Regions from separate parts of the Homo sapiens genome. Here region 2 is linked to region 1. Evidence: fine-mapped expression QTL. Tissue or cell type: adrenal gland. Region 1 holds a variant in brackets; the other region holds the start of a gene. All regions are shown on one strand. Distances are from middle to middle.

What was found. PIP is the estimated chance that this variant, and not a neighbour inherited with it, causes the effect.
Region 2: it holds the start of TMEM51-AS1, and the variant in region 1 is fine-mapped to the expression of TMEM51-AS1 in adrenal gland (GTEx, PIP 0.93).

What each region holds. Positions count from the first base shown.
Region 1 is chr1:15,121,623-15,134,119 of GRCh38, forward strand. TMEM51-AS1 (TMEM51 antisense RNA 1) reads right to left here. Exons shown (of 5, transcript NR_027136.1): 2 at 2,606-2,751. Among named protein-coding and RNA genes, the nearest start is that of TMEM51-AS1, 25 kb to the right of the region's middle. The variant A/C (reference allele first, on the strand shown) is at 3,233.
Region 2 is chr1:15,144,096-15,160,862 of GRCh38, forward strand. TMEM51-AS1 (TMEM51 antisense RNA 1) reads right to left here and starts at 8,369. Exons shown (of 5, transcript NR_027136.1): 1 at 8,196-8,369. It overlaps TMEM51 (transmembrane protein 51), which reads left to right and starts at 9,652. Exons shown (of 4, transcript NM_001136218.2): 1 at 9,652-9,859. RefSeq lists silencers at 9,475-9,744, 9,805-9,854, 9,945-10,124 and enhancers at 9,834-10,495, 10,275-10,364, 10,496-11,157.

The sequences.
Region 1 (12,497 bases):
TTTTTTTTTTTTTTTTGAGACGGAGTCTCGCTCTGTTGCCCAGACTGGAGTGCAGTGGCATGATCTCGGCTCACTGCAAGCTCCGCATGGAGGCCGATTTCTAATGAGTGGTTTAGCACCATCCTCTTGGTGCTAGCCTTGTGACAGTGAGTGAGTTCTCACGAGATCTGGTTGTTGTAAATGCTGGCATCTTCTTCCTACTTTCTCCTTCTTGCTCCTGCTTTTACCATGTAATGCACAATACATGGTAAAAGCAGGAGCAAGAGAGAGAAAGTAGGAAGAAGGTATCTTCTTTTGCCTTCCACCATGATTGGAAGCTTCTTGAGGCCTCCCTAGAAGGGGATGCTGGCACCATGCTTCCTGTATAGCCTGCAGAACCATGAGCCAATTAGACTTCTTTTCTTATAAGTTACCCAGTGTCAGGGATTTCTTTATAGCAATGCAAGAATGGCCTAATACAGCCAGTGACCAGTGACTGAAACCCCACTCAAAGAATGGTTTGCAAATACAGTAAATGGGAATGAAGCGGCATACGTAAAGAACACTCAAGGTCAACAGCTGGCTTTGGACACAGCTGGCGCCAGGGTGTCCGATGTTGCTTTCAAGACACTCAGCCTTCTTCACCTCTTGGGTTTGCTATCGTTTATACCAGTTAATTCTCAGACAGATTGTCCCCATTTGTTGGCAAAATGGTCACAAGACAAACACTGTCTCAGCCAGCAACCCCTGCACAAGAGAGACCCTCTTGCCAGGCGGTTCTAGCAAAGTCTCAGGGTGGAATCCCATTGGCTTGGATAGGATTGCAAACTCACCAAGGGTGGAGGCAGCCCACCCAGGCTTATGGCCTGAGGACACAATGCATGCACGGATTTTCCGCTCTTAAGAGGTGAGAGAACAGCAGCCCAAGAGCACCCTGCGGCTCTTAGGACGTGCGAAGCCAGTGGATCCTCTAAAGTGGCCCGGCAGGGGCCTCCTCTTTCCCAACACAGGCTTCCTCTCCCCTGCAGGTGGGGCTGGGCAGGCAGACTCCAGGGGAGAGGAGCCCCCTGATATTCAGACAGGAGAAAAAACTTAAGACCAAGCACCCAGCAGCTCACATAAGTGCCAGAAAGAGAACTGAGAATTCAGGGACATCCAACCTTGAGCTGAGGACTGATAAGCACCAATACTGATTGGACCATCACACTGTCTTTTACGCCAGCATTTCTCAGTGAGCACTACTGACATTCTGGGCCAGTTTTTGTTTTGTTTTGTTTTAATTTTTGTAGAGACAGGATCTCTCTTTGTTGCCCAGATTGGTCTCGAACTCCTGCGCTCAGGCAATCCTCCCACCTTGGCCTCCCAAAGTGCTGGGATTACAGGCATGAGCCACCGCACCAAGCCCAGATCATTCTTATAGGATGTTTAGCAGTATCCCTGGCCTCTACTCACTAGATGCCAGTAACAACATCTGTCTACCTAGTCAGAACAACTCAAAATTTCTCCAGACATTGCCAAATGTCCCTGGGGGAACAAAATCATCCCTGATTGAGAATCACAGCTGTATGTGTTTTTGCTCATTTAGTCTCCACAACAATCTCGGGTAAGCATTGTTTTCCCCATTGGTCAGATGGGAAACTGAGGCACGGAGTGTTCCATAGATTTCCCAGTGTCCCACCTTAGTGAGTGGCAGCTAGGACCTCAGCCTCAGCAGACTGGCTCTCTGTGGAGTCTGGGCTCGAACCCACTGGGCCATTACAGCCTTGGCCCTAAAGCTGGCTGGTCACACCCAGCTGTTTACAGTAAAATTTCCTGAAGCCAGATGTCCCCAAGGCGAAAAAGACCTCCTCATTATTAAGTACTGCACGGTTGGAAGCTGGATCCACCCCCTCTGCCTGGAAGAATATTGCTCTGTAAATTATAGGCTTAAAGGGTAAAGACAGCCCCATCAGCCCCGTGAGCTCCTGACTTAAAACAAGGTAATAATTTAGGGACTTAGAAAGGTCTGGTTCGGTGAGTACTTATAATAGCTAATCTTGCACCACACCTGCATCATCACCACCTTTTTTAAATTTTTAAATTTTATTTATTTTTATTTATTTATTTTCTTGAGACAGAGTCTTGTTCTGGCGCCCAGGCTGGAGTGCAGTGGTGCAATCTCGGCTCACTGCAACCTCCGCCTCCCAGGTTCAAGCAATTCTCCAGTCTCAGCCTTCCAAGTAGCTGTGACTACAAACACGCGACACCACGCCCGGCTAGTTTTTGTATTTTTAGTAGAGACGGGGTTTCACCATATTGATCAGGCTCGTCTTGAACTCCTGACCTCAGGTGATCTACCCACCTCAGCCTCCCAAAGTGCTGGGATTACAGGCCATCATTTTTTAAAAATAGACAATAGGAAACAACCAGGACATTTTGGAAACTTGCCCACGTCCAAATTGGGCAAGTGATTCAGGCCCGGCCACTAATACAGCACATTAGCGGCGGTGCCTGGCAGCAGCTGGGTGTGCCAGCCTTCCTCCCCTTCTAACCAAGGTTGGAGCTGAAAGACCTGGTGGGGCTGACTGTCTGTCACCCAGGCTCTGCCACATACACCAGGCTGTGTGACGTGGGGCCAACTCCTTACCCTGTCTGAGCCTCGGTAGAGTCGGAGCGGATGTTCTCTGAGGTCTTTTCCCGGCTCTGAAGTGGTAGGTTGGGTGAGGAATGGAGGTGTGGGCTGGGTGGACAAACCAGGAGGGGTCCCTGTTCTTCCATGTCCCACCTCAAGTCCTAGATAAGGAAGAAAAAGAATGGACACCCTCCTATCACCATGACGCCACATGGCCGTCGACAGCCACCACCACTCCACACACTCACAGGGACCCGCCTGCCTGCGCCCCAGGCGCGGCCCGGGACCTCCCAGTGGGGGTCCGCCTCGAGCCTTGTGGTTTGGATTTCATGGGAAATTCCTGGGTGGGAACCAATCAGGATGGAGAGGGGAAAGCATCTCTGCTGAGACCTCCCGATTGATTGGCTGGCCTCAGGGAACTGCTCCGCCCCCACTCCGTGAAGTTCTTGGAGGTGGGGGTGCTGCTGATCTTAGTGCCCTTAGGATCCTGCTGCCCCCACCTCACCCCCAACCCCGCCTTCAGGGAAGTCTCAGGATCCTGGCTGGACCAATCCAGCCCTGCAGCCCTGGCCCATGATGAAAGGCCCGGGAGTAGACTCCAAACCTGAGAGGTGAAAATCAGAACCCTTTCCGACAGGGCTC[A/C]GAATTGCAGGTGGCGGTGAGCTGCCGCTTTTTTTTGGATCTTAAGCTGTACGACGAGTCCCAGAGCTGCAGGCTGCCCCATCCCACCCACAAGGAGATGCCTAGAGAACGGGGCCCAGCCAGAGTCGGATGCCTAGATGCGGGAGGGGGGCAAGGACAACTGATCTATTCTCAGATCCAGTCGTCTCCAAGGCCACGTCCACCCCTGCTTTCTGAGGTTTGGTTGTGATGCACTAAGCACCACCACCCTACCATTCCCATTTCTCTGTGTCTTAGTTTGCTAGGGCTGCCATAATCAAGAGCCACAGGCCACGGTGCTTGCACAACAGACATGGACCCGCCTATGGTCCTGGAGGCTGGAAATCCAACCTCAGGGTGCCAGCAGGGTTGGCTTCTTCTGAGGCCCCTCTCCTTGGCTTGCAAACGGCCATATTCTCCTTGTGGTCCATCCACGGTTGCCTCTCTATGTATGTGTGTGCCCAAATCGCCTCTTCTTATAAGGCAGTAGTCATGTTGGATTAGGGCCCACCCATCTGACCTCATTTGAACTTAATTACCTCTTTAAAGATCTGATCTCCAAATACACCCTTAGGTACTCCACATCTGAATTTTGAGGATATGCAATTCAGCACGTAAGAGTCTCACACACTACCCCCATCACCAGCTAAAGACAACTAGAATTGGATTCCACATGCTTGACTGGAGAAGATTCCCAGGTAAATGACCTACTGTCCACTGGCCTTGACACTGAGGTGACTCCCACCCTTTCTCCCAGCAACTACATACCACACACATGCACACACACAACTCTCGCCTGCATTTTAAGGACTCTATCTGCATTACACAGAACAACTTGGAAGCATGAAAGAATCCTAAATTCTTCTGTTTTTTTAATTGACCCAGTCTTGCTGCTAGAGATGAGTAACAAGTGCCCCCATTTTTCCCGGAAAAAGACAAGGAGTTACTATTATTCTTTATTATTTTCTCTTCTTTTCTCCATTTCTCCCTGTTCTTCACTTCCTACTTAGCTCTTTAGAAATGCAGTTATAGCCTTTTACCTCCTCTTCCCCACACACTCCTTACAGGGCAAGTTCACCTAATCATGTGCTTAGAAGCTCCAAAGCAAAACTCTCACCCACCAGGAGGTTTCCTCGATAGATAACAGTTGATTGATGACCCAAAGTATGCCCATGAAGATGCCAACTCGAGTCCCAGTAAATAAGCCATCAAGGTAGCATGTGAAACCCCCCTGCTCACTTCCACCCCTGTGTAGGCCCCTTTTAAAAACACTCCCCTTCTGCTCCAAAGGCAAGGTGGAACCCTTAAGGCAGGAAGCCTGTACTTCTTTCCCTATGTTAGCTTTGGAATAAAAAGTCACTTTCTTTATACCAGACCTAGCTTGTTAATTAGACTCTGCAAGTGGCGAGGAACTGAATCTGCATTTTGGTTACAATGTCGTCCCCTTGAGCCTGTGAGAGTTGCAGAGTCAGAAGCCAGGCTGCTTTTGTGGGCAAGTTATGGCTCTGTGTCTCCTCACTGCCATGCCACCATCTGGACACCCCAGGACCATCGCCCCTCTTTTGGTTTCTTCACAGGGTTTCCACATGGCTCTTTTCTGGCCAGGTTCCTCTCCAGGACAACTCCGGTTCTAGCTCAGGATAGAGATCAACCCAGCGCCAAGAGGATGGAGCCAACACCACCCTGACAGCACAGAGCCCTGGTACACTTGCTGCAAGATGCTCTTCCAGGAGCCTCTCAGAGATAGATGGGCATGCAACTGGCATCCCCAAACAACTGGAGCAAGTCTTATCAAAGTTGCTTCCATCATTTATTCACTCAACAAACACTTGCTGGGTGTGTGTGCCTTATGCCAGCACTATGTGAAATAGATCTACTGACAAAACAGTCTCTGGCCTGAAATAATGCACACATACATATATATCATGTCAGCAGGTGCTGTGAAGAAAAGAAACACAAAGCAAGAGTGAAAGACTCCAGGAGACACGTGTTAGGTGGGCAGGTTCATTTGGTTTTGTGGTCACTTAACCCAACAAACTCCAGCATCGAGGTCACCAGAGGCTTCAGACTGGCTTGTTAAAAACGGCAACTTTGCCGACACCCTCTTGGTGACACAAGAGTGAAGGCCCTGGGGTGGAGTCCTCACTCACAGGAAAGCCAGTCCATGTCACTGACATCAGTCTCCAAACCCAAGCAGAAAGTTCCTCTATGGCTGGGTTCCCCAAGACCACCCTGACTATTCCAACCACATCCACAACCAGCTCTACTATTATTGGCATAATAGCTGCCTATTTTAAATCGGGCCAGACCTGACATCACTGCCTGTGTCTGTGTAACCACAGGCCTAAGACGCTGGCTCTGTTTTCTAATACATAGATGTGGGTACGGATATGTGTGCCTCTATGTGCCAAGTATGCACATAAATATACAAATAAATATTCCTGCAAATGCTCACCTGCATGTCCCCCAAATCAGGTCACACTCCATGAGGGACATAAGTGCCACAGTTGGGAACCACTGCTTTATGGCACCCAACAGATTCCTCATGCAGCATCGGCCTGCAGTCTCCTGTGGCTGTGAGCTCACTGTACCATGAGTCTGCCTGTGCCCTTCTTAGTTCCAGTTGCTCATGGGGACTTTCTATCACTCTGCCTCCTGGTCCCTCTTCCACGTTGACCCTCTGTTATTTGTTTTGTTTTGGGGAGACAGAGTCTTGCTCTGTCACCCAGGCTGAAGTGCAGTGGCACGATCTTGGCTCACTGCAACCTCTGCCTCCTGGGTTCAAGTGATTCTCATGCCTCAGCCCCCTGAGTAGCTGGGATGACAGGCATGAGCCACCACACCCGGCTAATTTTTGTATTTTTAGTAGAGACAGGGTTTCGCCATGTTGGCCAGACTGGGCTCGAACTCCTGACTTCAGGTGATCTGCCCGCCTCGGCCTCCCAAAGTGCTGGGATTACAGGCGTGAGCCACCGCGCCTGGCCTGTTATTTTTTTTAAGCAGCATAAATGCCTCCCTCCCAAAACATCTCCTTCCCCCAACCCCATTACAGACCCTCAAGCCTTTTCCATGCCCCTTGTCCTTCTTCCATGGTCTCCCCTTCCATCTCTTCCTTCTCTGGACAATCCTCTCATAAATACATCCCTGAATAAGGACACCGTGCTCCCACATAGGCCCAAGCAGTGGAATCGTAATGAAGGGCCCAATTCCCAAGGGTCAGGCCCTGTGCCCTTTACATGAGATCTAATTGAGTCCTTGCTGTAATCCTGGCAGACAGGTACTCTTATCCCCACTTTACAGAGGCAGGAAAAAGTTAAGACACTGGCCCCGGGTCACATAACTAGTAGTATCAAAAGTAGGGATTCGAACCCAGATGTTTTTAACTGCTATCCTCCCTTAACCTGGACTTTATGCTCCTAGTAATACGATCGAATATTGTATCAGCTTTTAAAATAATCTACATCCCACAGTTGCCTCATTTATCTTGTGGGCAGCTGAATGGGTGGTGTTCAAGTCAAGCTGCTCACGAGAGTCACTGGAGTACTCTTGTTAAAAGTTCCGATTTCTAGGTCCTTCTCCAAAGCCAATAATTTAGGGTTTTGAGATAGGGCCTAGGGAATCTACACGCTAAAGTTAAAATGCTTATTTCCAGGCCTCGGGATTTCTGATTCACTAGGTGTGGGGTGAGTCTGGAGCCTACGTAGTTTTTAAACTTCCTTTGGTGATTCTGTGGCATGACCAGGGGCCTGGGACCAACCGCCCTGGTATATATGGCTCCACTATAGGCAGCGCCTGGGCCATTATAGCTCGCAGTCCCAGAACTCGCCACTAGATGGCAGGACAATACGCCCCTCACCAGCCTAGCCCAGCTCAGCTCAAGAAGGACCAAAGCAGCCTAGGCCACTCAGAGATCCAGGCCCAGTAGACAAAGTTTCAGGTGGGCAGGGCCCCCCACCATCCCTGCCAGCTGTCTGCAATCCCAAAAGGTGGCTTTTGGGGGGGAAATGGCTTTTGTTTTCTTTCCTCCACAGGATGCCAGAAACATCAGTGGGGTCGGCAAAATTTGAAAGCTGGCCTCAGGACAAATAAAACCTGTTAAGCCACCCAGATTCCCTTCCAGCCAGGAGGCCCAGATCCTGAGCCCAGCACGCTGTGAGGACGATAGACCACCCAGCAGGAGATGAGTTGAGGAATGGCCTGATGCCAGGCAGGAGGTCTTCCTCTGTGCGTGCAGCTCCAACGTGAAACGGCAGCTTTTTCCCTTCCTCTGAGGGGTGGCAGGCAGGTGGCCTCCTGGAGTAAAACCACAGGACCACAGGACCACGTGGGCAGCCCCAGGGAGTCAGACACACACGTGGGAACCTCGAAGCAAGACCCTGAACATCACTTTGTCCAGCCGCCTGCCTCCTCTTCATGTTCCTACACGATTAATGAGCCTCCCTCCTGGCCCCTGGGCATATGGGGAGCGCCTCCTCCTCTGGGTGCCAGGACCCCCCTGCCAGGGACAATCAGGCAGCCAGGTGTGGCCTGTGAGAAAGGGGAGGCCCTTGGGTCACATGAAAACTGATTCAAGGAAGGACTCCATGGTCACCAGAATGATGGGTCCCCAGAGGCCCACACTCTGGTTCCTAGAACCCGTGACTGTGATACTTTACATGGCAGAGGGAGCTAAGGTTGCAGGTGAGATGAGTGCTGCTCATCAGTTGACCTAAAAATAGGAAGAATATCTAGATTAGATTATCCAGGGGGCCCTATGTAGCCACAGGGATCCTTAACGCTGGGTGAAGGAGGAGAAAGAAGTGGGTCAGAGGTAAGTGTGGCTACTGAAAAGGTCAGAACGGTGCAACATGAGAAAGACTCAACTTCCATTCCTGGCTGTGGAGATGGAGGAAGGCGCCACAGACCAAGGAGTGCCGGCAGCCTCTCACTGCTGGAAAGGACAAGGGAACGGATTCTCCCTAGAGCCTCCTGAAAGGGACACAGCCCTGCTGACACCTTGATTTTAGCCCAGTGAGTCCCATGTCATATTTCTGGCCACTGAACCGTGCAAGAATAAGCCACCAAGTTTGTGGCAATCTCCTACAGCAGCCACGGGAAACTCACACACTGGGCAAGGTGGCTCATCAAGGTAGGTAACATTTGATCCTCAGGGACGAGGCTGGGTGAGATAGAGCAACGTGTGGGACTCACACTGCTGGTGTTAAAAGATAAATGGTGGCACATTAAAAAGTTAAAGAGTTTATTTGAGCAAACAGCAATTCATGAACTGGGCAGCACCAAATCGAAGGTGGTTCAGGGCTCCTCCAGAGGAGTTTGAAGGAAGGGCTTTGATAGAGTAAAGAGGAAAATCAGATAAATTAAATAAGGAATGTGGAAAATAAAGAAATTATTTGATTGGTTAAGGTTTGGGCAGTTGCCTTATTTAGATGATCCTGGTGGAAAGTTCCTGATCATGTAATTAATGCTTAGCTGGTCTTTTATGATTGGCTAAGGTTAAGCTTCACCTTGTTTATATAGAATCCCAGGGCATGGGAGCCACCTCAGCCTAATGGCCTCCCATTTTATTTTAACACTAGGTAAGAGAAACAGCTCACATTGGGCCAGACATGGCAGTTCATCCTTGTAATCCCAGCACTTTGGGAGGCCAAGGCAGGAGGATCACTTGAGGCTAGGAATTCAAGATCCAATAATAAAATTTTTTAAAAGTTGGCATCAAACTTGGTTCTAATGCCCATGATCTCAAGGTGTTGTGCCCCCAACAGACCAGGCAGCTTCTAAATGGCTCCCAATGACCCCACCTTTTGTGAAGTCCCCTCTCCTTGGTCATGTCTTGCTTCTAAGAATAGAATCCAGTAAAAATGATGGGCTGTCACTCCTGAGATTAGGTTATGAAAGACTGTGACCTCCATCTTGCTTGTGTATGTGTGGGCGTGCTCGCTCTCTGTCTCTCTCTCTGTGTGTGTGTGTGTGTGTGTGTGTGTCTCCTTATTTGCTTGCATTGATAAGGCCAGCTGCCAAGTTGTAAGCCATCCCATAAAGAGACCCATTTGACCAGGAACTAAAGTGGTCTCTGGCCAACAGCCTGCAAGGAGCTGAGTTCTACCAACAACCACGTGGGTAAGCCTGGAAGCAGGTCCCTCCCCAGTTGACCCTCGGGATAATGCAGCCTGTTAGGCATCTTGACTGCAGCCTGTGCCAGACCTTGAACCAGGAGCACCAGCTTTCATCCTGACTCACAGAACCTATGAAATAATACATACTGTTTTTCACAGAACCACTACGTTTTGGCATAATTTGTAACATGGGAATAGATAACTAATATGCCAAGGGAACAACAATTTGCAGAAACATTGCCCTTCCTCCCCCAGAGTGTGCAGTTGGCTCTTAAGAGTGTGTTGTGTTGAAAACCAGAGTAGGGGCCACTCCCAGGCAACTGATTCCAGACAACTAGTAAGTTAATGAGATGAATAATAGTGACAACATTGATAATAGTAATAGTTAACCTTGTGTAGTGCTTACTAGGTGACAGGCATTATTCTAAGTTCATTAAATATAATGAAATGTATTCGGTCCTCACAGCAACCCTACAAGGCAGGTGTTGCTATTTTCACTCTTTTACAGATGAAGAAACTGAGGCACAGAAGGGTTAAGCTGTATATAATAAAACAAATCGTTTTGGTTTGGTTTTTCTAGAAACAAGGTCTTACTATGTTGCCCAGGCTAGATTTGAACTCCTGGGCTCAAGCAATCCTGCCGCCTCAGCCTCCCGAGTAGCTAGGACTATAGGCGTGTGCCACTGTGCCCCGCAAATGTGAGAGTTTTGTTGGGTAGAATGCAAAGGTGGCATGAATTTGTTCAAGATAAAATGCAATATCTCAAAGCAAGTCTGTGCCTGCCAGGGTGCAGCCCCAGCTAAGCACATCCCTGCTCTCAACTGCATCTCCCAAGAGCACCTGTCCCCTCTCTTGTCCTTGCTTTGGTCTGGGCAGTGACCAGACTGAGAAACAGCAGCTGGTTGGCTGCTGGGGCCTCCAGCCTGACTGAGCAGGTGTCTGCACGAAGCCGTTGCCCAGGATGGTGACCCCCGGCCCTCACAGCACAGCACCCAGACACAGACACTCCGGGCCAACATTTGGGTTAAGAGGGAGATGTGAACATTTTTCCAACAACACAAGTTCTATTAACTCTGGAATCAGTTTTTACATTTTCCCATCTAAAATCTTAGATGAGTTACATAAGTGAAAACTTACTCATGTTGTGATAGTACTTTTTTTTTTTTTTCAAGACAGAGTCTTGCTCTGTCACCCAGGCTGGAGAGCAGTGATGAGATTTCGCTCACTGCAACCTCTGCCTCCCGGGTTCAAGCGATTCTCCTGCCTCAGCCTCCTGAGTAACTGGGATTACAGGCACATGCCACCACGTCCAGCTAATTTTTGTATTTTTAGTAGCGACAGGGTTTCACCATGTTGGCCAGGCTGGTTTCAAACTCCTGACCTCAGATGATCCACTGCTTTGGCCTCCCAAAGTGCTGAGATTACAGGTGTAAGCCACTGCACCCAGGTTACTTTCTACAATTATATGAGTTGAATAGATATTTGTGGGCTAAGTTGGAAAACCACCTTGGTTTTGATAACACTGTCACTATAAGAAGAAAAAAAAAATACACACACACACACACACACACACACACACACACACACACACACACACAATTTGTAGAGATGGGGTCTTTCTATGCCCAGGCTGGTCTCAAACTCCTGGCCTCAAGCTATCCTCCCCTCTCGGCCTCCCAAAGTGTGAGGTTACAGGTGTGACCAGCCACACCAGGCCAAGGAAATATATTTTAATTCCCAGGCACCCACCTATCAAGAAACTTTTGAAATGTAACCAGCTCCGGTGTGGACTGGCCAGAACCCACAAAACAACAATCAGGGCATTCGTGTTCATTGTCAATTGAAATGCCATTGGGTAAATAAGGCCAGAATAACTTTTTCTCCCCCAGGCAGCCCTGCTATTAAAGAATCTCCATTTGTCTGTAGAACTGCATACCTGGGAGGAGAGAAATAATTTTTAACACAAGGGGCAAGGACTAGTTTTTTCCTCCAGGAATGAAAGATACTACTAATTTCATAGGAAAATGAGAACATCAAGAAATAAAACTGGGGTCCTTCTAAAGCGAACAGGGCAATTTTAAAGATTCTTAGACTCATACAAGAGACCTTGCATCAAGCTCCCCCTGCAGAATGGTCACGAGGTGCCTGAGATGTTTATTCTTTCAGCCCTCAGGTGACTAGCAGGTGATCTCATGTGACCAGCAGGTCACTTCTGGTCAGGACCAGCCTTATCTGTTGACCTCAGGGTGCCAAGCAATTATGGGAAGTAAGGCCCTTGTGCAGAGACCCTCAAGCTATAAATGAGCAGGAGAATCACCTGGGTGGTTGCTGAAACTGCAGATAGCACACCCCAGCCCCAATGAGCTAGCTGGTTTTTAGTACCAGAGTGATATGGTTTGGCTGTGTCCCCACCCAAATCTCAACTAGAATTGTAGTTTCCATAATCCCCACGTGCCATGGGAGGGACCCAGTGGGAGGTAATTGAATCATGGGAGTGGTTTCCCCCATACCATTCTTATGATAGTAAGTTTTCATGAGATCTGATGGTTTTATAAGGGTCTTTTCCCTTCACTCAGCTCTCATTCTCCTTCCTGCCACCCTGTGAAGAAGGACGTGTTTGTTTCCCCTTCTACCATGATTGTAAGTTTCCTAAGGTCTCCCCAGCCATGCTGTACTGTGAGTCAGTTAAACCTCTTTCCTTTATAAATTACCCAGTATTGGGTATGTCCTTATAGCCACGTGAGAACGGACTAATATACAGAGCCAAGGCATGTTTGAAGTACCTGGAGAGTTTAAAAACCCTAATGTTAGAGTTCCTTTCCACCCCAGAAGGTTCCTATTCAATTGGTTTGAGGTGGGTCCCACAGTTATTCTTTAAAAGAAGCTGCTAACATGTGGACAAGATTGGATATCACTGCTTTCTCAGCCCAACTGCACACCCAAGGTAAGAGTTTCCTAAGACACCTTGACAGGTGCATCTGGCCCAGGTCTCAGATGTTTTCCCGCCTTCCTGCTGCTGAGACCAGAGCAAGCACTGTGTTAATGCTGGCTGCCACTACTATTATTGTTGTTATCATTTTTATTGTCACCATTAGTATTGGATCATAGCTGCAAGTTCAGCCCACCTGTTCCCT
Region 2 (16,767 bases), 25 kb after region 1:
AGTGGAGCGTCACGATCTCGGCTTACTGCAACCTCCACCTCCCAGGCTCAAGTGATTCTCAAGCCTCAGCCTCTCAAGAAGCTGGGATTACAGGTGTGCACCACCACTCCCAGCTAATTTTTTTGTATTTTTAGTAGAGATGGGGTTTTGCCATGTTGGCCAGGCTGGTCTTGAACTCCTGACCTCAAGTCATCCACCCCATCCTCCATCTCCCCAAACGTTGGGATTACAGGCATGAGCCACCCTGCCCGGCTGATTTGGGTTTTTTTTTTCCTGTGTAGTATTCCATGGTATAGATGCACTACAGTTTAACCATTTACCATTGAAAGACATTTGGTTTGTTCCCAGTTTTTGGCTATTACGAATCTTTATGATTTATAAAATTAATTTAGAAAATGTCAGCTAGTGGCTGTTGTTTTCTGAGTTTGAATGGGGTGCAATATTTCCTGTGACCCCTCAGTCATGGAAGTTCTTAGACTTTTTCATTTGAACCCTGCAGAAGCCCTGGGTGTGGGGGAGGCGGAGCGGAGATAGAGTTCTTCAGTCAACCCATCTGTATAGAGTACTTCCTATGTGCCCTGTGCTATTCTAGGTATTGGGGGTACTGCAGTGAACAAAACAAATGAAAATCCCTCTCCTCATTTATTATTCCCCAATATACGTATAGGGAAACTGAAGCTCAGAAAAGCTATATGATTTGCTCAAAATCACGCAAGACGGAAGTGATGGAACTAGAGCTTGAACCTAGGTCTTCTGACCTCGAGGCCACCGATTTTCTGACTAAATTTTGCTCTCTATCCTCCTAGACATCAATTCCAGAGCAAAAGCCATATGCCGGGGATCCTGTGTTCAATGTTTTAAGCAATAGTTCTTTTGTTTGGTTGGTTGGTTTTTATTTTTTACACAGGGTGTCACTCTGTCACCCAGGCTGGAGTGCAGCGGCGCCATCTCAGCTCACTACAGCCTCGACCTCCCGACTTCAAGCCATCCTCTCACCTCAGTTTTCCAAGTAGCTGAGACTACAGGCACCTGCTACCACACCCGGCTAGTTTTTGTTATTTTTTGTAGAGACTAGGTTTCACCATGCCCACGCTGGTCTTCAACCCCTGGCCTCAAGTGATCTGCCTGCCTCAGCCCCCTAAAGTGCTGGGATTACAGGCGTGAGCCACTGCACCCAGCTAAGCAACCATTATTAATTGGGGCTGATTCCTCTGCCACCAGGGGAAACAGTTGGCAATGTCTGGAGACATTTTGATTGTCACAGCTGGGGAAAGGGGTGCTACTGGCATCTGGAGAGTAGAGCCAGGGAAGCTGTTTGGCATCCTGCAATGCACCAGTCTCCCACGACAAAGAATTCCCAGCCCAAATGTCAATAGTGCCAAAACTGCAACACTCTAATCTAAAGATCTCAAAGAGTCACAACAAAGACAACTGCTACCCAGACAACATTGTGTAATACTGAACTTCCACCCAAGTACACACAATGACAGGTAGGGTAAGAGCAGGTACACTGTTGGTTGAGGGCTTATGGTCGTTATGAAGTAGGTACAAAGAACCATCCACTCTGCTGTGTCAATACTGGGAGGCTTTTCTGCAGAGGAGGGGATTGGGACAGTTTGGATGGTAGGAAGGAGAGACTGGTGGGCTGCTCACAAGAGGATGCAGAAAGGGCAGGAGGAATATTGTGACCTCCACTCTATGACTCTGCCACATCTGTTTCTCCTAAAGAACCCTGGTAACCTCCTCCTTTGTGTAGAAATGAGCAAGAAAGCAGAGCAAGACATGCAAAGCCCTTTGAGGAACAGCAGGGAAACCAGAAGGACCTTCAGTCACATCCTAGAGGTGCAAGAAACACAACTTCCACTCTCAAAATTAGATTGAATTTCTATTTCAAGTCCCCATTTGGCTGGTAGAAAGACATCTAGCCATAATTAATCAGGGCCTCCCTACCTCTTGCCCTGGGTTGCGTCTAGATTTGTTTTTGGGGTAGAGGAGGCTCAGAAAGTGCCAAGGCCTGGGCAGAGGTCAGTGTCTGGTGTCCCCTGACATCTGCTATGTTGGCCTCACTTCCATCTTCCTGATGGCAGATGCAGCTGCCTAGGCCTCCTGGAAGTCTCTGTGCCTGGCCTCTTTCTCCTCCTCTCAGCTTCTTCCTCCCTCCTCTGGGGCACACGGGAGATGTTGGCAGAGCTTGGTAAACCTCTGCAAGGCTGCGTCACCCCTCTGCCAATTACTCCCTCCCCCACTGCATCTGTGCCTTGGGAGGGGAGGAGCAGGCACTCTCCTGAGCTTGCCTGAAAGCCACACTTATGAAGCTAGTGTGGGACTGCCGCTTGGGCACCACCCACCTCCCTAGCCCCACATCATCATGGCTCATCCACTCTCCTTAGATCCTCTGTCCAGACCCCTGGCCCAGGGCACTTGACCTCATCTTGGTCATGGGGAAATGACTTTTGCATCGTGCTCAGTCTTCAGGATGTCTTGTTAATGCCACAAATTTTATTCCTAGAAGCCTCTGGGACTTCTACTTTTGAAACTCAAAGCCCAGGCTCTTGTAATGCCAAAGTATTGGTTCTTGAAACTCAAAAGCATCTCTGCTTTTCTGCTGGATGAGGCTTCCCCTAAAGGAAGAAGAGCCACTGTCTGGAAAGAACAAAAGGGAGGAAAAAAAACTTTCATCAAGTGAAATATTATCACACTACAGCAGCAAGGCGGAGTACGCGGGCAACCAGGACCGTGGCAGGTGTGGAAGATACTGTCATTGCTTCTCCCTTTGGGCCCCTCTGTCCCCAGGTTTATGACCCATTCTCCAAACCTGGATCAAGAAGTCCCATCTGAAGGGTGTCACAAGCAACCAGTTCTATGAGAGCCAGGGTAGAGAAGCTGCAAGAACACAGCCTCCAGGCAGCCTGGGTCCATGCCCAGACCCCAGCTTTGCCAGCTCGGTGTTCATGGTCAGGTCATTTAACCTCTCTGTTTCAGTTTCCCCATCTGTGAAAAGGGGAAATATAGTACCTTCCTCATGTGGTGACGAGCCTGATCAAATGCAGCAGGCCTTGTACAGTGTGTAGCAGACTGCCTGGCCCTGGTCAGCACTGTATGACGGTTGGCTGCTATTATTGTTGTCATTGGCTTATCCAAGGGGTGAGTGGATTTCCTTGGAATCCCATCACACAGGGCCCTTGAGCAGTTAGTTAACTAGCAGAAGGTCAGGGCACCCATGCCTGGCCTCTGGCATTACTCCTCAGCTGCTTGTCGAAGCTTCAAAGGGACTCTCTTAGTGTCCTTTTATTTCAAGAAACAGAAACTCATCAGGAAAGGAAATTCCTGGGAAAAACAGAACAGGAGGGCCAGCAGTAATCCAGGCCTCCTGGATTACACATTAAGAGTAAGTGGGGACTGGCGCGGTGGCTCACACCAGTGATCCTAGCACTTTGGGAGGCCAAGGCAGGTAGATCACTTAGGCCCAGGATTTTGAGACCAGCCTAGGTAACGTAGCAAGAACCCCATCTCTACAAAAAAAAAAATTAAAAATTAGCCAGGTGTGGTGGTGCATGCCTGTAGTCCCAGCTACTCAGGAGGCTGAGATGGAAGAATCACTTGAGCCCAGCAAGTGGAGGCTTGCTTCTTTCTCCTGCTCCCTCTGCAGTTGGCTTTCCTGCTTCAGTGTGTGCCAGTCCAACATGGCAGCTTCCCTGGGCTCGAGGTTACCTGCTGCAGGGACCTGCTGGGGTCTTCTGACAGCCATTGGCATTGTTTCTGTTGTCAAAGCCTCCATTTGGTTCAGGTGTCTTCACCAACCCCCAGGTGACTCCAGGTGAATCCTGAGAGCCTATGCCCATTTTGAGCGTCCTTGCCAGTGACAGGCATATGACCCAGTTCCGGCAAAGGAGGTATCAAGGAAGTTTACTGGGAGCTTCTGGGAAAGGTTTCGTCGCTGATGAAAAAGAGACCCACGGGAAGATGAGAGAGCATGGAGCCCAAGGGATGACGAGTAATGAGGCTGAGCTTGTGAGAAGGGCCCACCCCCTTAGGAAGTCCCACATGTCCTTGCAGAGAAGGCTGGACTGCATGAGGGGACAACGGGGACCCACTGAATTGCTGACTTTACAATACAGAGAATGGATTAAAGGGGGAGGGTTTGGGAGCAGGACACCAGTTAGGAAGCAGCCAGATGAACTGCAATCATGCTGAGGCTTAGAGGGAAGTTTCTACAAGCTGGAGCACAAGAGGAGATGGGGTGATAGGGAGGTAGAATTGCTAGCTGGCTGTTCTCAGGGGTCTCAAGAACTTGTACCCCAATGCGACGATGTCCTCAGAAGCTTCATTCTGGGCTGTCTACACAGGTCCAGTTACACTGGTAACTCAGATAGAAACACATTTCCAGAATCAACATTTTTCAGCAAACGGGACAAAACTGTTTTATTTAAACTAATGGTCCAACTATCCAATTTTGCTTTGCGCTACGTGAGCACAATTTGTCTGCCACACAGACCTGATTCAGCCTTCAGTGGGGCTGGGCCAGTATATCACCAGTGAAACCTACACGCAAGACACATCCCTTCCCGGTGACTAATGTGCACCGTTTCAGGAAAAGGCCAGGTTGAAAGTGCACATACGTGATTTACTGCTGACTTTGGCAAGAGTCATACAGCAGAGACACTGCTCAGCTCCTCACAGGTTTAGAAATAAGCCCACATTAAGAGTAAGTGGGGGCTGGGCGCGGTGGCTGACACCTGTGATCCTAGCACTTTGGGAGGCCAAGGCAGGTGGATCACTTAAGCCCAGGATTTTGAGACCAGCCTGGGTAACGTAGCAAGACCCCCATCTCTACAAAAAAATTTAAAATTTAAAACTTAGCCAGGTGTGGTGGTGCATGCCTGTAGTCCCAGCTACTCAGGAGGCTGAGATGGAAGAATCACTCGAGTCCAGGAAGTGGAGGCTGCAGTAAGCAGAGATTATGCCATTGCACCACAGCCTGGGTGACAGAGAAAGATCCTGTCTGAAAAAAAAAGTCAGTGGGAAGAGAGAGTGACCTGCTCAGAACCAAGCAAGGGTAAAGAATGACAGATGGCAGAGAACAGAGCAAGCAAGGGAGGATACAGGGACAGATAATAGGAGGATATGCTCCTGGTGGACAATACAGGTGGTTTCCAGCCAACTTTATTATTAACACATTCTCACTAAAAAATAAAATTACCTCCCCAACACACACACACCCCCCCTCAGTTTCTAAGGGTAACCTGTTTGGTTTGATTCCTCCCATAGTCTTTCTGTACATAATCAAATATATGTATGTGTGTCTACATCTTTTTAAAAAGTCATTTGTGAGCCAGGCATGGTGGCTCATGCCTGTAATCCCAGCACTTTGGGAGGCTGAGGCGGGTAGATCACTTGAGGTCAGGAGTTCAAGACCAGCCTGGCCAACATTGTGAAACCCCATCTCTACTAAAAATACAAAAAATTAGCTGGGCGTGGTGGTGTACGCCTGTAATCCCAGCTACTCGAGAGGCTGAGGCAGGAAAATTGCTTGAACCGAGAAGTCAGAGGTTGTAGTGCAACCTCTGCACCACTGCACTCCAGCCTAGGTGACAGACACTCTGTCTCAAAAAAATAAAAAATAAAAAAAGTGGTTTGTGTAGTATCATCATATTTAGTGCCTTTCTCGGTGAATGATATAACTTGGACGTTCTTCCATGTCAGATAGCTCTACCTCATTCTTTCTGGTGACTTCATAGTGTGCCAGCATGAGTCTATGCCACAATTTACTTAGCATAGCTCCTAGTGCTGGGCATTGAGGTTGGTGACCACTTTTCACCGTTACAATTAATCAGCAATGAAAACCCTTGGACGTTCTGTTCCTGAGCACATGTGTGAGTTGTTCTGCATGATGATCTATTTCTATAAGCTGATTTTCCAGCCTCACTTTCATTGATGTGCCTGGAAAGTCAGTAGCATGACAGACTGGGGTCTTGGTCACTAACCAGGGACAGTCGAATATTTTAAAACTGTCGTTATTTACCCATTCAGCCAGAAAGAATAAAAATGTAATGCCACGGGAATTCTCAGAACAGCATCCTCTCCTCTTTGAATTCAGGCTTTCAGAACTAGACAGGCTAATGCTCCCACAACTCATGTTCAGGCCACACTGGGTACTTTGTCACATACTAGTTCACCTGATCCCCGAGTTGGTCCTGGAAAATAGGTATTATTAGCATAGAAATGCTAATAATTTTTTTTTGACACATGAGGAAACTGAGGCTCAGAGAGGACAAGACATCTGCCCAGGGTCACACAACTCACAAATAGCAGAGGATTCAGAAACCAAAGACAAAGGTGATGGAATCCTGCCTTCTTTCTAAATCCGTGATGTAGGCTAGATCATGGTGCCTCTTCAGAAGTTTACAGTGGACAGTTAGCCAAAAAAGCAGGTGAAGTGAACATCTGCCTAGGTGACTGAGTTTGCAGGATGTATTAGTTTCCTCCCGCTGCTGTGACAAATTGACCCAAACTTCATGGCTTAGAACAACACAGTGAACTATCTTCTTACAGTTCTGGAGGTCAGATGTCCAAAACGGATCTGCAAATGCCTTCCCACCTTCAAATCATAAGGCAGACCCAAACTTGCCTTTTTGTGGATGCCAAGAGCTCCTTCTGGATGCTCTGGCTGACACTCCATTCCTTTCCTTTTCTAGCTCCTAGAGGCTGCCCACATTCCTTGGCTACTGACCCTTGTCCAGCAACTGTATCATTCTGATCTCTACTTCTATCACCACATCTCCCTCTCTAACTCTGACCCTCCCGCTTCCCTCTTGTAGGAACCCTTTTGACAACATTGGACCCACCAGGAAAATCAAGGATAACCTCCCCGTCCCAACATCTTTAACTTGATCCCATCTGCAAAGTCCCTTTTGCCACGTAAAGTAACCAGTTCTGGGGATCAGGTTGTGAACATCTTTGGGCAGCCATTATTCTGCCTATCACAGAAGGGGGTTCCTAGCTTAGTGATTTAGAGCAAGGGCCCTGCAAAGACCCCAGATTCAAATACTTTGTCACTTGCTAGCAGATCCAGGTACCTAACTTCTCTGAGTCTTAACAGCCTCATCTGAAAAACTAGAATAATAGAATCTTCCTTCTAGGGCTGTTTTGAAAACCAAAGAACACAATGTATGCAGTGCACGTGAAACACAGGGTTCAATAAATGGTAGGGAAGATTCAGAGAAACTAACCATGTAGAGGGAGAGGGCTGTGGAGGAGAGGAGGATAAGGAGAGGCATGCTTCCTTTGGTAGCTTCTTCAGTTTTGCCTGGGCCTCAGCTTTGCCTGAGAATTTCGTCAGTCTCTCCCCAGATCAGCCAGGGTGAGCCTGCTTAAATGGAACACTCTGAAGATGATATCCTGTGATAAACAAGACCTGCCCAGTTGAGTCTGCAGCAGAGTGGGGCGGGTCTGGGATGACCCTGGCATGGAAAAGTACAGCAGCTCTTTGTCTTCAGATTAGGAGCTGGGACAGCTGTTCTGACATGATCACCCCCCGCCCCCACCCCAGGCCTCTCCAAAGTCCATCTTGCAGAGTCAAATGAAAACCAGATTCCTGGTCTTATCTGAGAGCTACGTGACTGTTTCCTGTCACTCCTTTGGAGCCTGGGAAGGTCCCCACATGCATTGTCTAAACTTTGGGATGAATACGCACAGCTCTTAAATGGGAGCATATTATTATAGGTACCTGCCTACACAAAGGGTCCTCCCTATTCACTAAAATCATGGGTTATTATTTAGGGCTTTCATTCATCCAACAAATGTTTATTCCGCATTTGCAGGTGGCCAGGCAAGGTGAACATTCTCTCAGGGTGGAGAGTATGTGCAGACAGGAGGAATTATGCTATGGGAGGGAGAGCAGAAGCTCTGGAGTGGATCATCTTGGGTCTAGATCCTGATACTTCCCAGCTGTGTTTTCACTGGGCAAAATGACCTCACCTCCTTAAGCCTCAGCCTTCTCTTCTATAAAGTGGGCATAACAAATAACCGCCTCCTAGGTTATGAGGATTAAATGAGATGGTTCAGGGGATGTGGGTGGTAACCCCGCCCCTGGTTCATAGCAAGGATGTGAGGAATAGCAGTTGCTGTCATAGACATGGAGACTGTTTCCCCAAATGCCTTCCCACCCCCAAATCATAAGGCAGACCCAAACTTGCCTTTTTGTGGACGCCAAGGTTCTGTCGAGCTGTTAGGGTGCAAGTTAAGAAGCCAGAATGGCGGGCTGAGGGGAGAAATGCCCGCATGTTACAACTCTGCAGGTGTACACACGTGGACACCATATGTACCCATGAATTCCGCCTTTGGAAGTGAACTTGATTGCAGCCTATTTTCGTCTGGAGGCGGTGGATTCCCGGTAGGAGGCGCCTTCAGTCCTCGGCTCGATCCTGTGACGCCAGCCAGCTGCCTATCGGCTTCTCAGTGTTTGAACTTCAAAGGGCTGGACGCTCACCCAAGAAGGGGACCCCGGCCTGACCTCTCTCGGAATTCAAAAAAATCTAAGGCTCAGAGAGGGAATGGGAGCTGGCTCTTCCCTCTGTGTTTAGCATCCACGTTTTTTGGCGGTCTGGCTGAAACCAGCCCACCCTAGTTCGGGCGCCAGAGCAACGCAGTTCCGAGGGCAGATCTCCAAGGGGCGGAGGCAGAGCCGCGGGTGAGAGGCTTCCGCGCCGACTTCGGGTTTGCACTCCCCGGAGCCAGAACTCCGTGGCGGCTCCGGGCCTCCGTGGATCCGAGCAGAGACTGGCTGCCCGCCTGCCACTCGCAGGCTGGGAAAACGCCAGCCGGTGCCTCGCCGGGAAAGTTCTCGGCAAAGCTGGGGATGAGCCCTCAGCAGGGCAGGCTCCCGGTGCAGCGCGCCCCCATCCATTGCCCGCGCGCAAGAACCCGGAATGGGCCCCACCTGGGCCGGGACTCGGGCGTGCGATCCCGAGGGCGCCCTGGGGACCACGCATCGGGTGGGGACCCTGGCCGAGGGCGTGAGCTGACTCAGTTTTTAAAAACTCGCTTCCTCCTTCCCTACTTGTGCCGGTCACTCACCTCGCTGGGAACCAGCCCAGGGCAGAAGGGGGAGAGGGAGGCGGTGGCCTCCCCAGGAAGGAGGAGAGGTGAGTATCCCGCCAGGTAAAGGCGGGGCGGCTGGCGGAGCTGTGCCTCGGCGTCTGCGCCTGGTGTGGGAGGAAAGCGGGTCTCCCAGCTCCACTTAAACCCCTAAAACCTGGGACTTCTAGCTTGAGACATTCCCCGACCACCACCCGTCACACACACGCGCGTGCGCGCACACACGCATGCACACCGATTCTCTGGGCCCTAGGGAGGAGGGGGGATCAGGGCTCTATTTTCTCCCGACCCCCTCTTATCCAACTCGGCTGGCAAGGGTTGGGGAGAACTTAGGCCCAGCCCCCGGCACACGCTCAGCGCGCTCCAGCGGCATACGCTGGGGAGTGGGTGCCCGCCTCGCTCAGCTGCGATCCCTCGCCTCGGGCCCGGGGGTGGTGCCGAGGGCCGGGAGGGAGGGTCGGCCGGTGGGCGGTGCTTCTCCGGGCTGGAGGCCGCTCCTGGCCGGCACCGCCCTCCGCCTCCCGCGGTCCCTCCCTCCCGCACGCCGGCGCTCCCAGGCCGCGCTTCCTGCGTCCCCAACCCGGTCCCTGAGAGGGCAGTGCGCCCTCTCCACCACTGCGTTCCCTCGGCTAAGAATCCCCCGAACCCCAGCCCCGCGATCGCGGCGCCCACCGAGGAGGCCGCCCGGGTGGGGCGCGGGGGTCGCGAAGCCCGCAGTCCCGGACCGCCCAGCCGAGACGGAGCCGGACCCGCCGCCTCCCGGGTGAGTCTCAGCCGCCGCGCCTTGCGCCCGCTGCTTCCCGCGGCGCGCTGTCGGTTCCCCACAGGGCCGTGTAAGGGGGCCGAGGCCCGTTTGGGTCTCCTGTCCGTCCGTCTGTCCGCCGAGCGCTTCCCGCCTGGGGTCGACCACCGGGAGGACTCCGCACCCCGCACCCTCTGCGGCCGCGCCCCGCCGGCGCGGGACGCTCCCGCCTCCCGGGCACCGCGCCTGGCCAGCTGGCCTCGGCTGGGGAAGGCAGCTGGCCTTGGGGGCCCCCTGTTGGCGGGAACAGGTGCTATCCGCCCGGCGGGCTTCGAACCCTTGGCTTCGCCAGAAGCGCTTTCAGCGCGTGGTTAGGAGCAGAACTTCCCAGTAGGTCCCAGGAAACCACCTTGGCGCTTTGCTCGCGCATCCCTTACTGTATGGAAGTCGGGGCCTTTTAGGGATTTAGATTCGTGTGTGTGTATGTGTGTGTGTCGCTCTACAAGCAAACACGGGGGTAAAGAATCGGGCATGAGCAAAGTGGATTGAAACTCGAGTCCTTCCCTGAGCGCGTCGGTTTCTTCATCTGTGAAACTGACATGACAACGTCCCAGGGTGCGGCGGGGCATTCATGCCCAGCACCCAGCAAGCACTCAGCGGTAAGTTACGTTACCGGGCCTAGGGGAGAGCAGAGTACAAATCAGATCTCAAATCAGCGCACAAACGGGAGGCGCTTGGCCCGGCGCGCCTGGTCTGCATTACAGGATAATGGTCTCTTTCCCAACCAGCGGTGGGGGCGAGAGACCTGGCCCCTCCCCCACGGTTTCCCCAGGGAGCAGCCCGTGGGGTGTCCTGCGCAGCGCTCCGAGGTGCCTGTGACGGTGCATGGGACTGCGGGTCCTTCCCAACAGCAGGGGAGGTCTGGCTGCTGGGAACCCGGGCGCTGCCGGAGTGGGGTGGGCGGGGACGAGGTGGGCGGGGCAGGGACCCGAACCGGGAGGTAAGTCAGCGGGTGGAAGGCTTTCCCCTCTAGGACCGGCCGGCTTCTGGCTTTCCTTTTGAATGGGTTACCCGGAGAACAGCTTGTCTAGGGAACTGTTGGCCCTGGGACCGTGAACAGCTTTCACACCCCGGAAACCTGTCACAAGAGGATCCTGACCTATTGGGACAGAGCCCCTGCCCCTCCAAATATCTCACTCCACCAATTGAGAGGTACCCCCAGACTGGGAGAAAAGGCCAAAGAAAGAGAGAGGAGGCTAGTGGTGAACCTGCTCCTCACGGCTTCGGAGCTGACAGCTCTCTGATGGGGTGTCTGGGGCCTGCCCCAGTGACCCAGAGCCCAGAAGCCTCAGGGAGCCCCCAGCCTAGTGAGGGAGTCAGGGATACTCATGAAAAGTGTTGCAGAATTGGCGATACAGTCAGGCCACACCACTTGCTGGCTGTGTGACCTGACCTCTCTGAGCCTCAGCTTCTTCATCTGTAAAATGGGATGATGATCTCCAAGGGCGAGGTGGGGTATTTATGCCTAGCACATGAAGTATTCTATAGTAAGTTATGTCACAGGGCTTAGACGAGAACAGAAGAAAGGAAATAACTCAGGAGGTCCTGCTAAGAAAAGAGTATTAGAATATTCATCAGGGAACTGGAGTCCCCCCAGGGAACAGGGGAGGAAGGGTGTCTGGGCAGATCGAACAGCACAGGCAAAGGCACAGCGACAGGAGAGTGCCTGGGGTGTGCTGGGCTGGGGAAGGTGCTCAGGCAGTGGAGGGTGTGGAAAAGTAAAGGGAATGGAAGGTCCGGAGTGAGCTGGACTGGACAGGTGGGGGCTTTCTTGGAATCATTCAACATATGTTGGCCGAGCACCTTCTGTGGGCCAGGCGCTGTTCTAGGTGCTCAACAAAGATGAACAACATGGAGAAAGACGTCCCTTTCATTCAAGTTCTCTAAGCAGGGAAGTCGTCTGATCCCATCCATATGTTAAGAAGATAATCCTGGCTGCCTGGAAGTTGGCGAGGATCCTAGAGAAGACTCCTAGGAGAGAGAGGCTGGCCTGTGGGTTGGTGGGGGCAGTGGGAATGAATGGGGGAGCTGGAGGAGAGGCCCATACAGGAAGCAGAGAGTAATGTGTGGCCTTCACTCATGACTGTTGGTCAAGGGTAAGATTCTGGGGTTCTACATGAGGCCCAAACTGCCAGCCTGGTCCCCTGCCAGAGAGAAGTAGTGAGTGAGTGTCTGGGGTATTGGCAGGACCCAAGCCCCTCCAGCTGCGACTCTCCGGCTCGCTGGCTCCAGATGTCACGAGGCCTGGGAGTTTCTCTGTCTGCGTGAGGGATGGGAAAGCTGGAGGCAGAGGCCAGCTGGAGCTTCTGGGGCTCCCGTTTTAATAGGTTGTGTTTCTGGTCAACGTTCCTCCCTCCCTCTGCAGGCCTGGCTGTAAACCCCTCAGGCTTCTTGGGCTGGAAGAGGCCAGAGTGTGAGGAGCTTTAGTGTGGATTCTCTTCCCCCAGCCCCAAATTAAGGTGGGAGTCATGCAAAAGAGAAGCATTGTCTCCCTCGGTGCTGGGAAAGTTTCAGAAGCTCAGGTGTCTTCTGACTTGGGATGTGGTATGGGGGCTGCTGACTTTTGCTTTCACTTTTGTTTCTGCTCTGAAGCTGGGAGGAATCCTCCTCTTGCAGCGAAAGCTGTGAGAATATCCTTCTCCATGCTTCAAGTCTCCCTTTGCTTGGAGGGAAAAGGAAGGTCCTAGAATGTCTCAGGTGGAGGGGACCTTCAGGTCATCAGAGACATCATTCTCATTTGACAAACAAAACTCAGAGAGGGGATGGGACTTACCCAAGGACACACAACAGTTCAGCAGCAGAACTGGGACTGGAACCCAGCCCTCCTGACTCCCTTCTAGGGCCCTTTACTTTAACCCAGGAGACCTGGCCACATTCGGGACCAAGACTGTTTTGGGCCCCAGGTTTCTCAACCTCTCAGTCTTTCAAGCGGCTTCATAGAGTTGAGCTCCTCCCCAGCCTGGACAGGTGGTGCAGCCTCCCCTGCCAATGTTTTATTCTCCCTTCCTCTGGATTGAGCCCTCGCTGCCATGGCCACCCCTCCTGGGAGCTCTTGCTCCTGAGAAAGAAAACAGGCCGTTTGTTTGGAAGAAACAAGCCACCTGTTTGGTTTCCCAATACCAGGCCACACAGCCCTGTCCCTCCCAGACAGCCCCAAGATGCTGACCAGAGATAGCCCTCTGAGGGTCTCTGCTGAGCTCCCCTGACCCTCGACTCCTCCCCTCAGCTCCCGTCTCAAGACTGCTGGTTGGTCCTCACCTTCTGTCTGTGGTGTTTACTTGGGCGGAGCAACCTAAAGTCTCCACATTCTCTCTTGCCCTGGATTTATCAGACTTAGCAGCCCTTAAACCTGAATGCGTAGCTTCAGATCTTAGAATATCGGGGCCAGAGGGATCTTAGCCATCAGAAAATCCACTCTGCTTATTTGACAACTGGGGAGACCAAGACCCAGGGAAGAGGAGATTTGCCTGAGATCACAGCCAGGACCAGAACCCGAGGTTCCAGAGTTTGTCTTGAATGATTTTGAGGATGATTCTTGAAAAACAAAACAGGGCACCCTCCCCCTCCAAGATCCCCTTTCTGTCTGCACTTCACACTACCAGGTGTTTTTGTGGCATCCGTGGTGACATGGTCAGGAGGAGTAAGGGCCAAGGGTCCTGAAAGATGAGGTGTGCACATTGAGGAGTGTGTCTGCGCATTTCCAGGTCCTGTCTGTTCAAACTGGCATTAACACCACGGCATGAGCTAGTGAGTGCATTTATCTGGCACTCCCTTAGCCAGACTTGATAATGTGTCTTTGGATGGCAGGCTTTTAAAGTTGTCTTCGTCCACAGATTACAAAAGAAGTAGGTGCTCCTTGTAAAAACGAGCAGATGACATCGTGAAGGCTGGCGACCACTGTTAATATGGTGGCGTTTTATTCAGGTTTTTGTTTGCTGAGCTGTTTCATGTCCTGGTTTGTTGTTGTTGCTTTTGAAAAAATAGAGACAAGGTCTCTGTGTGTTGCCCAGGTTAGTCTTGAACTCCTGGGCTCAAGTGATCCTCCCACCTCAGCCTCCCAAAGTGCTGGGATTCCAGGCAAGAGCCACTATGCCCAGCCCGTATCCTGGTTTTTCAACTCGTCATTACAGTGCCTGTTATCTTCATGAGATAATGTGAGTGACTTCACGCAGGATCTAACCTGTAGGTCTCACGTGCTTCCACCCCTTGATGGCTAGCAGGTATTCCCTTGGCCAAAACCCTGTGACGCTGTGCAAAGTGCAAAGACGTTTCCAATTCACCACTGTGGGAGTCCAGAGGGCCGTTTTTCTGCATCACCATGGGGTTTGGGAAAGCAATTCTCTCTGAACTCTTAGAAATGGAAGCCACGGGCCATCTGGGTGTGATGCGTGTGACCCAAATTCATACAGAGGGAGGGAGACAGCTTTGTTTCTTCTGACTTTTATGTGTTTATTTTTGCTGTGTTTGTTTTAACCCATCCAAGTGCCGCCACCCCACCATCACTGCCCCTTGCCCCAAATCTCCCTGGGATTAGGCATGGGGTTAGGCAAGTTGCAGGTCTCTAGAAAAATCGGTATTTGGCATGCTCATCTCCAAACCCTGGCTCTTGCAGAGTAGGCGTTTCAATAGCAAAGATGTGCAGAGAATTTGTTTCCTAATCGGTGATTCAGGTAGGACACCCCATTCTGGGAACAGGATGGGGCGGGGTCTCTGTCTCTCTCTACCAGGATCACAGCTTTGTTAATGCCATAAATCATCAGTACTGGAAGTACTCGTATCTTGGGGATTTTCTAAGCTCATGTTCACAGAATGGACAGCCACTTACTAGTGGATTTGAGCATCGTTGAGTGGTTTTCCGCTGGATTTTTAAAAGTGAAGTAGAAGACAGTGGACTAGAAAATAGCATGCATTTCCTGTCACGAGAAATATTCCTTAGTAAAACTTTCAGTTATCTGTTTGTGGATGTGCACTGAGTCACTAGGTAAAAACGTCTCTCCTCCTGCATGGTAAGAACCTTGCGCAATGTAGCTCCGGTTATACTGTGATCCTGGGAAACCTTGGATGGGTCCTAGAAGCAACTCAGGGGTTTGCAGGGACAGAGCTGAGTGGTGGAGGCAGGGCCGACAGGAAGGAAGCTCGGCTTATGCTAAGGATACAAAACATCCACTTTTAAAACTCTGTGACTTTAAAAATAAAACAGAAAGTTGGAAGCCATTGTTCGTCTAGCCTCCTCAATTCCTAGAAGAAACTGAGGCCACAAAACAGAGGCTGGGGCCTTTGCTGCAGGGGAGGTAGCACTCAGGCCTCACATTGAGGAGAATCTGCAGATGTAGACCCTTGACCCCTCCACAAATGAGCGACTCAAAACACACGTTCACGGTGCAGCCTGTGACCCCCATAGGCCTCACTGTTGCGTGCACTAGGAATTCATGTTTATCCTAAAGCCTGTCGCTCTCGTGCCAACAACCCAATTTATATTGCTGAGATGCACAAAGCATTAATTTTTTCAATGCCACATTTCAAACAAAGAAGAGTTAATAACCCTGTTCTGGCATTTCTTTTTTTGTTTTGTTTTGTTTTTTGAGACAGAGTCTCGCTCTGTTGCCAGGCTGGACTGCAGTGGTGCAATCTTGGCTCACAGCAACCTCCACCTCCCAGGTTCAAGCGATTCTCCTACCTCAGCCTCCCTAGTAGCTGGGACTACAGGCATGCGCCACCACACCCAGCTAATTTTTGTATTTTTAGTAGCGATGGGATTTCACCATGTTGGCCAGGATGGTCTCGATCTCTTGACCTCGTGATCCGCCTGCCTCGGCCTAGGCATGAACCACCACACCTAGCCTTCTTCTTTTTTTAATGTCCCCAGAGCTTTACCAATGGAAGCTTCCCAGGCCCATCCCCTGGCCTGAGAGGCCTTTGAGATGATAAGCCCAGGGTCACCAAATCCTGGCAGAACCTGGCAGAATGAGAACTCACCACAGGGAGCAAGTTCTTTTTTTTAAGATCGTGGACTCACATGATGTGCAGTTCTGGATGTCTCCAGGAGGTTTTGCTATTTCCTCAACAGGTAAAATTAGGTGGCTCTAAATCTTGGGCAATTTTATGTCTTTTCCATGTTTTTCTCCTCACATGTGGTCTAGGGAGGGGTGTAGAGAAGCAGGTGGAATTTACTTGCCTTACCTTATCCTACCTTTTCCTGGAACCCACAGGTTGGGCCTGTGCTGGTTAGGGTGTGGGGCATGATTTGTTGATATTTGGTGAGGGAAAATGACTTTATTTTATTTTATTTATTTCTTTTGAGACAGAGTGTCACTCTGTTGCCCAGGCTGGAGTGCAGTGGTGCAATCTTGGCTCACTGCAACCTCTGCCTCCTGGATTCAAGCAATTCTCTTGCCTCAGCCTCCTGAGTAGCTGGGATTACAGGTGCATGCCACCACGCCCGGCCAATTTTTGTATTTTTAATAGAGATAGGGTTTCACCATGTTGGCCAAGCTGGTCTTGAACTCCTGACCTCAAGTGATCCACCTGCCTCAGCCTCTCAAAGTGCTAGGATTACAGGCGTGAGCCACCACACCCAGCAAGAACATGATTTTAAAAAACAAAACAAACACTCAAACTTTCTTAAGTTACCATAAGAGGCCTCACATACAGCTTCCTTAAAACTGCCTGCAATTTGGAGAGAAGCAGTTAGGTACTGGAACTGCCTGTGGGTAATTATTGTTTTCAAACAGTGACAGATGCAAATTCTCTTCTTTTGGGGGAAATTGCCTGTAGCTAAACACCGGCGCCATCACTTTAAACAAATCTCCTGATACATATGGTATGCCAGGCGCTGAGCCCAGGAACGAGGGAGAGTCAGCCCCCGCCCC